Regions from separate parts of the Homo sapiens genome. Here region 2 is linked to region 1. The links come from fine-mapping of genetic effects on gene expression. A gene starts in region 1. The other region holds a variant in brackets. All regions are shown on one strand. Distances are between the middles of the regions.

Region 1 (4,256 bases):
TCACAGCCTTTGGATCAGAAAGATGCATTTTAGAGCCAGTGAAAGAGACATTGACCCCGACAGCTGGCTGTCTTGCTCTTGTGGAGTTATCAGCAGCAGGAAAATAAATGTAGGTCCCTGGGGTACACTGTGGATATGATAAGATCCCCAAATGAGACGGTGCTCCAGGCCAGTCCACTTTCTCAGGGCCAGGGCCAGGGCCTAGGCTGTAACTGAATCACGTGTGTGTGCTCTGTCAGTCCATCAATCTGTCCAAGCAAGTCTGTCAGTCCATCCGTCAATCTCTCTGTCAGCAAGTGTGGCTCCTTGGAGGAGGAGGAGGAGGAGGAGGAGGAGGAGGAGGAGGAGGAGGAAGAAGACATGGTGGTGATGTGAGAGGAAGAACTTCCTGATCTTCCTTCCTTCCCTCCCTCCCTCTCTCCTCCCTCCCTCCCTCTTCCTTCCTCCCTCCCTTTTTTCCCTCCCTCCTTCTTCTTTCCTCCCTCCTTCCCTCCCTCCTTCCTTTTTTCCTTCCCTCCCTCCCTCCCTCCCCTTCCCTTCCTTTCTCCTCCCTCCCTCCCTTCCTTCTTTCCTTTACTCCTTCCCTCCCTCCCTCCCTCCCTTCCCTCCCTCCCTCCCCTCCCTCCCTCCCCTCCCTCTCTTCCCTTCCCTCCCTTCCTTCCCTTCCTTCTCCCTCCCTCCCTTCCTCCCTCCTTCCTCCCTTCCCTTCCCTTTCCTCCTCCCTCTCTCCCTCCCTTCCCTTCCCTTCCTTTTCCCTCCCTCCCTCCCTTCCTCCCTCCGTTCCCTCCCACCCCACCCACTCTCTAGAACGCATATCAGGGAGAAGGGTGGCTGAAAAGGGACCCAGAATGGCCCACACAGTCTCAGCACCCACCCCACTCCCCATCACAAGCAGCTGTGTCCTGGTGCCTCCCATTCCAATGGCCACAGGGGCAGCTGGGAAAGGAACTGTCTAGGGTCAAGGTCAGGCCAAGGGGAGACGTGGCCACCACAGTTCTGGCTCCCAGCATCTCTGGATTTTCTTTAGAAAAGCCCATGACACCCACTGGATTAGCAGAAACTCCGCGAGGGGTGAGGCTGATCTACTTGACAAGGAGAGACTGACCTGGGTGCTGGAAGGGGCCATGGGCAGCCCTCTGTGGGTGACCCCCATTCAGACAGGCTGCCGGGATTCCCAGCCCCAGGGCCTGGCTCCCTGCCCAGAGCACTTCCAGCTCATGGCTCGCCAGCAAGAAGACTCCTTATCAGCCTTAAGGGTGGGGCGGCTCCGACGACAGGGCCGTGGGGGCTCGCCAGGGAGGCCCCTGCTTCCAGCTTGAACCTCCAGTACCACCCCGGGTGAGCTTGGGCAACTCATTTCTCTTCTCTGAGCTTGGTTTTCTCATCTTCAAAACGAGGGGTGGGGCTGGGGAGGCCTCCAGCTCTGAGGAGCCAACGTGGGACCCTCTGCCCACCCCAAACCCCTGTGTTCAGGGCCCGAGCTGGGGGTGGGAAGGGAAGGCAGGGACTGCAGAGGTGCTGTGCCCCAGACTCAATGGTGGCCTCCAGTTCTCTGTCCCGTGTTGCTGAGACCCATCCCCTGTGAGCCTCGACCTAGAAGGAACAGCCCTTATTACCCCAATTTACAGATGAGGAAGCAGGCTCGGAGAGGCAAGGTGACACCCAGCCCCCACAGCCAAGAAGTGGCAGAGCCAGGGATCTCCGAGGTCAGGCTCTCTCGGCTGGTCTTGGGCCCCCCATGGCACTGGTGACGGATGTGGTGCTGGTCTTGGCTGGGCACCTGCCACCTCTCTCCCTCTGATGGTGGCCCCGGCAGGACAGACAGTGGGAGAGGAGAGCTGGGGGATAGAGATGCCAGCTCAGCACCGAGGTTGACCGGGCACAGGCCAGGCTGGAACTCAGAGCCTCCTTCCTCTCTGCCTTGCTCGCTGCAGACCCCCAGGGACGAAGCAGCCAACCCTGGTGGGGGAGGGTGGAGGGTGGTGGATGGGGCTGGGGATGGAGGTCTCATTTTGGCAGTGGAGGGGAGTCGCGGGGAGTCCCCTAATCTGAGGAGACTCCAGCTTCCCCCAGGCCCTGGCCAGAGCTCCATCTTGCCAGGTTTTGGGGGGAGGATAACTTGAGGAGTCGACTGAGAGCTTTATCTTTGCCCCTGTGACGGGTGGCCTGTGGTTTCCTGCCAACAACTCCTGTTTCCGGAGGCCCAACAAGGCCCACGCAGAGCCAGGAGGGGCAGTGGGGCTGGGCCTGGGTGGCCCCACCAGCCCCGCCCCATCTATCTTTGGGAATTTATTTGTCCATGGGCGAGGCTGGCCTGCAGTCTGTTGCCTTCCAGGGGCCAAGAGCTGCTCTGATCACCCAGGGATTCTCTCTCCAACCCAAGTGCCTCCAGCTGACCTCTGGCTCCTGTCCTCTGGCTCCACCTGCACCGCCCTGCTCTTCCTAAGGGGCCAGGAAGCCCCCAGAAGCTCTACCATCGACGTGGGTGGTGGCACCCGGCTCACCCTGAGAGCAGAGGCCGTGCAGGGGGCTCAGTTCTGAGCCCCAGCCGGCCCACCATGGCACGGCGGTTCCAGGAGGAGCTGGCCGCCTTCCTCTTCGAGTATGACACCCCCCGCATGGTGCTGGTGCGTAATAAGAAGGTGGGCGTTATCTTCCGACTGATCCAGCTGGTGGTCCTGGTCTACGTCATCGGGTGAGTCCGGGCGCCTCCCGCTGCCTGCACCAGCCCCTACCCCGGGCCTGTCCTCCAGACTCTGACATCCCTTGCGTGACACCAGCGAGCCCCTCTTCCTCTCCATCCAGGGGAAGGCCTTCCTGGCAAGCCACTGTGCGAGAATAGAAAATCCTGCCAACTCGCTGTTGAGATGGGGACGAGGCCGGAGGGGAAGCCCTGCCCGGGGGCCTTCGGTGAACAGGAGGCAGAGTCTCTGGGTTCTGAGGAGCCGGCTCAGTGTTATGGTTCCTTTGAGTGGTTAGTGGTGTTCAGGGCCAGGGCACCACCAACCACAGCCACTGAGTCCTCGACCTCTGACCGCCTGCCAAACCAGGCCGCCACTGACACACAGAGGCCATACCCCACACCCGTCACCCCATATGACAAGTTAGAGAGAGACAGACTCTGCTGCCAGCTTCCCTGCCTGAGCAAGGGACATCCAGGGACGTTTGAGGCCCCCGGAGCAGAGAAACTCTCACATTCTGAATACCTGGTGCCTTCATGTTGGCATGTCAGGCGGAGGACAGAGATTGGTTCTGGTCCCAGGGATGATAGTTCCTTTCTGGGCATCTCCGGACCTGTCCCACCGGGCTGGGAGTGCAGAATCAGAGGCAGCGTGGGACGCTCCTGCAGTATGGTTGTCTCGGGAGCCAAGACAGGCCTGGCAGAGGCTGGCACACTTGTGAGTGTGCATATGGAGCTCTGTGCCTATATGTGTCTGGGTGTGTGTCCCTGGTGCTGAGTGCCCACATGTGGGTACCCTTATGTGTACATATGGCTGTGCCCATGTCTGCCCTGTGGCCAAGTGTCTGGGTGGCCAGTGTGTGTCCCCTGTGTGTGGTGCATCTTGTCCACTCACAGTGACTCTGCAGAGGTCTCCTGGAGGCCCCAGGGCCACTGGAGGGGGCTCAGCCCCTGCTGGGGTCCTAGGGGTGCCCAGTAGCCCCTGCCTGCCTTTGCCGTGTGATTCTGAGAGCTCTACCCTCCCCATTTTTACCATGGTTCCGAACCAGAACTGCTAAATGGAGTCCAGGGCAGGCTGACCCAGGGCCCAAACAAGGACCATGAAGTCCTAGTCCCCCGGAAACTTCTGGCGTCCAAAAGAGCCCTCCTTCTGTCCCACCAGTCCCCAGAACCTCAGAGCCGGCCAGGTGGACCCAGGGCCAGACCCCAGCCTTGACCTCTCCTCTCTCTTGTTCAGAAACTAATTTGACATCTGTGATGTCTGAGCTTGTGAGGGAAACTGAGGCCCAGAGAGGGGCAGTGGGGTTTCCAGGTCCACAGCAAGTCAGCAGCAAACCCAGGGTTGCAGCTGAGCCCTCCTGACCCCCAGGCCTCTGCTGTGCCTTCTCCTTCCTCACCATCACAAGGGGCTGTGGATCCTTTCTACTGGGCACTGATGGTGGGATGCCAGGTACAGGACGGGCCGGAAGTCCACCCTTAGTATCACTCCTGACCGTCCCTGGGAGAGGCTGTCTGCGCAGGCCCAGCCTACCCTTGCTGGAAGAGGCTGGGGGAAGGCTGTCCTCTCTCTGCCCCT
Region 2 (4,505 bases), 160 kb before region 1:
TGCAAGTCAGACTATACCTGGTATGGATGCCAGACTTAGAGGGCTGTCTGTTTAAAATGTGCTCAGAATCAAGTAGCAAGGATGCTGAAAGGGCCTGGGGCCGTCCTGTGAAGACATGTGAAGACACAAGGAACGTTTAGCCAGGACTTTGAAGCTAGCAGTCGTGAGATGAGGTGTATTTCATATTGGTGGCCAAGGTGATTTATTCATCAGCCTTCTACCTCAGGGTCTCATCCAGGACTGGAGGATTTGTGAGTCTGTGCTAATGGAAGCACATGTGGACAGACAGCGGCACAGCCCCAGCTGGGTCCACAGCCTGTATTCCTGACCCAAACTCCTCCCATCCCATGGAAATGACACTGAAACCTTTCTGCGCTCTGTTTTGGAATCTTTTAAAATAGTATAAAAATCTTTCTCCTGAAGCCAGGTGTCATGACTAATTTGTATCCTTTCAGTGACAAGGATCCAGGCGGCCTTCTTCTTTTACCTGAGAAGAACGACCTGGCCAAGATGAACATCAGTGAAGTCCTGGCGGTCATGGACACTCTCGTCTCTGTTGCTGCTCGAGAGGTATCCAGTGGCTGCCTCCCTGTTTTCTTTGTCTCATGCTTGTGGGGGCACGTGATGTGGCAGTCTCTTGTGCCCCCCTTTGCCTCTTTGCAGTATGAATGTACTTTGTTGTGGTTTTTTCTGTTGTTGTTGTTGTTTTGAGATAGGGTCTTGCTCTGTCACCCGGGCTGGGGTGCAGTGGCACAATCACAGCTCACTGCAGCTTCCCCATCCCAGGCCCAAGCAGTCCTCCCACCTCAGTCTCCCAAGTAGCTGGGACACAGGCACACGCCACCACGCCCAGCTAATTTTTAAATTATTTGTAGAGATGGAGTCTCTCTTATGTTGCCCAGGCTGGTCTTGAACTCCTGGAATCAAGAAATCCTCCCACTTTGGCCTCCCAAAGTGTTGGGATTATAGGTGTGAGCCACTCTGCCTGGCATGAATGTACTTTGTTACTTGACTCTTACAAATGATCACAAAGGTTTCCCAGCCAGCCCTTGCAAACGAGTGAGGGCATGTTACGGTTCTTGGTAGTCAGCAAACGATAAAAACACAGAAGTGCTCGATAATGCTTCCTGTGGAAAAAGAGGAATGGATTTATATCAAGTCCCCTTGTAGTGGTTGTCAGTGAGCCCAACACACAGATATGTGTTAGTGGTGTGAATTTTCAGGAAAACTACTTGGACTTTAAAAAAGAAATTCAGGACCGGTCACAGTGGCTCATGCCTGTAATCCCAGCACTTTGGGAGGCCAAGGTGGGCGGATCACCTGAGGTCGGGAGTTCAAGACCAGCCTGACTAACATGGAGAAATACAAAAATACAAAATTAGCTGAGCTAATTTAATTTTTAATTAAAAATTAGTTCCCTTTCTACTAAAAATATAAAATTAGCTGGGCGTGGTGGCACATGCCTGTAATCCCAGCTACTCGGGAGGCTGAGGCAGGAGAATCGCTTGAACCTGGGAGGCGGAGGTTGTAGTGAGCCAAGATCGCGCCATAGCACTCCAGCCTGGGCAACGAGCGAAACTCTGTCTCAAAACAAACAAACAAACAAACAAAAAACAAAAAAAAAATTCAGATTTCTTAGCAATTTCGTGGACTAATCAAATCTGAAAGTATATTATCTTTTTTCTGTGTTAGTGATTTTTTAAATTTGCCTTTTTTAAAAAATATAAGGGATTTTCTTTCTTAAAATGTAGTTTATGCTCCAAGTGGATCAGTCACTTGGGATATTTGACAGAAAAAAGATTTCTAGATCCCACCCTAAGCTACTGATTCAAGATCTCTAGGGATAGGGCTTAAGAACCTGCATTTTTCTAAGCACCCCGAGAGATTCTAAAGTGATAGCACCCCTGTACTAGGAAACCAAGAACTATCTCTTTGGGCTAAATATGGGAACCAGAGAGCTGGAGGAGATTTTGTGGTAGACTAGTCCAAACCACATCTTTGAGGTATCTAATGATGTGGACTTGAAGGTAACTTTTCTTTTGTGGCTGATAACTTATCTTGTATCTTTTGACTGAACTTAGTGTCTTTAAATCTCTTACATTTTTGCGGGTGCCTTACTGTTTTGAGTTGCTGTTAGAGCCATGATTTCATTCATTCCCAGCTGCCTGGCATGATAGGCCATCAGCAGGTGTCTCCCCCAATTCACTGATGGGGACCTCAGAGCACCTGTAGGGTGCCTAGGTTATCATTTGCCAAGGTTGCTCTTAGGCTGACCACTGTTTAGATCTAGTATTAATTTAGA[T/G]CTAGGGTAACGTTGACTTTATAAGCCTCAACTTTGTTTTTAATTAAAAAACTATGCTCTATTTTTTGCTGTCACATTAATTTTCTCTTACTTTCTGCTTTCTGGCTTATTTCCAGACTCTTCTGCCCATCTCTGAGTCTTCCTTAAAAAACTCACTTCAGTCTCATCAGTATGTGTTCTCGGCCCCAGTTAGCCATGGCTCATTCGAATCTCCATCCTTATTTCTGCATTTCCCATACCTTCCCTTTCTTCTGGAGCTCATCTACATTCTACCTGTTTCTCAGATCCCTGAAGCCTGAACTGAGTTCTCCCCCTCACCAGTCTTTCTTCTGTTGTTACATCATCAGTGCCATTGGGCAGAAAACTTCAGCGTTCTCACCTGGTTCTCATAGGAGTCGATTCTGCCCCGCACGTGAGGAGTGGGTAGGTGCTAGAGCCAGGACTGAAACCGGGGCTGTTTGACTCAGAGCCTTGTCCTCTTTCTGCTAGATAAGATAGGCCAGATTTATTTTAAGATGTACGTGGAGAAATGAGATAGCATTTTGCCCAAGAGAATTTCGCATAATTGTATATACCATTTGGAGATCAGTTGTGTGTCTTTTCTTCTCTTTCACTTACCTGTGGTACAAAAGAAGTTACAGATATCATTAAACCTCCTTGCTAGAGATGCAGCTATTAATGTGTTTCCCTGAATTATCTTTTAGTAAAAGACATTTATGGTTATACTAAAGAGTTAGGGTTCAATCAGGAAAAAAAATTAAAGGTGATCAGAAATGTACCTGGTCTGAAATTTTTCTCAGGAATCTATCAAATTCAACAAATATCCACTGAATGCCTGCTGTGTGTTAGGCCCTGTGCTAGGAACAGGGGATACAGTGATTTTAAAAAAGCACAGTCTTGAGGAGCAAATATGTCATCAGGTAGTTGCAACAATGTGGCAAGTGTCTCTTTTAAGGACTAGACATTCCCAGTATCTTTGAGTCCATTTCCCTCCATCCACATGCCTTTTCATGGCTCACTCTCTTCCTGCCTTGCCAGGCGTAACCATCATCCCGAAGCTTGTGTTCACCATTTCCTTGTTCTTCTTTCTACTTACTCCTACCCAGCACATCTGTATTGCCTGGGTTGTACCTGTAATGGAATCATATAGTGTACAATCTTCCGTATCTGGAGGTCAGATAACCCTTCAAAGAAACTTTTGAGAACAAAGGTGATGGTTAGAGAGCCATGGAGGCATGAATAATGATTTTTTTAAGGTGGGAGAGGTTTGATTAAAGGCTTGAGGGAAGGAGCCAGAGAAAGGACATTTTAAGATGTAAGAGAAAGAAGAGATACCCAGGGGGGTAAGGTTCCTGAGGTGGTAGAAGGAGATGTCATGTGGAATAAAAAACCTTTGTAAAGGTTCCAAAAAGCTGGAGGGAAAGGGGAGTTTTCGTAATACCATCTTTCTTGGTGACTGCTGGGTTGAAAGCTGTTTCATGACTTTTCCGTGGCTATAGTTTGTTTTTGCTGGTGACAGCTGCTGCTTTAGAGGATGCCCTTGGCTATGCTCTGTGAATGGCCTTGTCACGAACACTTTCTGTTTGTCTCCTCCCTTGTAGTGCGAGCTGTTAATGCTCAGTGGGGCCCCAGGGGAGGTGGGCTCTGTGCTCTTCTCCCTGTTCTGGTCCGTCCAAGGCAGCCTGCTATCCTGGTGCTACCTGCAGCTGAAGAGCACGGACTCTGGAGCCAAAGATCTTGCCGTGGACCTTATTGAAAAATGTGAGTTTCAATATAAAATCCATGAAAACAGATGGCGTTTGGGTTTTGACTCTGAGTGTTCTCTTCTTTAGTAACTCATGCAATGAGTGTGCATATGGCTTTCTTCATTACGATTCAGATTCTTGGACTGGTTTGGTCTAATTAAAATAGAATTCAACAGCATGTCTTTTTGTCTAGAGTTTACTCTCTGAGTGTGGTGGTATGCCTAAGTATTTTTATTGTAGAATTAGATCATTTCACAGCCTAAATATTGCTTTTGCAATCATATAGCACTCTTACGTGATGTCTCGCTCTTCAGGAGAGTCTATCCCTGTTTTAATCAAGTCATCTAAAAATGAAAGTCTTGAATTTTAGAAATCTAAGGTGTATGAGCATTGTGACCATTGCTGATTACCGAGAATAATTAGATTCATGTTCTGTAAACTCACAGAAAATTATATGA

Alleles and levels. Alleles are on the strand shown, and positions count from the first base shown. SD is a standard deviation of normalised expression in the study named.
In carriers of allele T in region 2, the expression in transverse colon of the gene that starts at base 2,319 in region 1 tends to be lower than with G alone (moderate effect, 0.43 SD a copy in GTEx).

Evidence for each region.
Region 2: its variant is fine-mapped to the expression of P2RX1 in transverse colon (GTEx, PIP above 0.99).

What each region holds. Positions count from the first base shown.
Region 1 is chr17:3,914,528-3,918,783 of GRCh38, reverse strand. It overlaps P2RX1 (purinergic receptor P2X 1), which reads left to right and starts at 2,319. Exons shown (of 12, transcript NM_002558.4): 1 at 2,319-2,695. The coding sequence starts at 2,559. RefSeq lists enhancers at 3,146-3,215, 3,938-4,007, 4,118-4,197.
Region 2 is chr17:4,077,441-4,081,945 of GRCh38, reverse strand. ZZEF1 (zinc finger ZZ-type and EF-hand domain containing 1) reads left to right here. Exons shown (of 55, transcript NM_015113.4): 18 at 456-570; 19 at 3,904-4,063. Among named protein-coding and RNA genes, the nearest start is that of ZZEF1, 63 kb to the left of the region's middle. The variant T/G (reference allele first, on the strand shown) is at 2,303.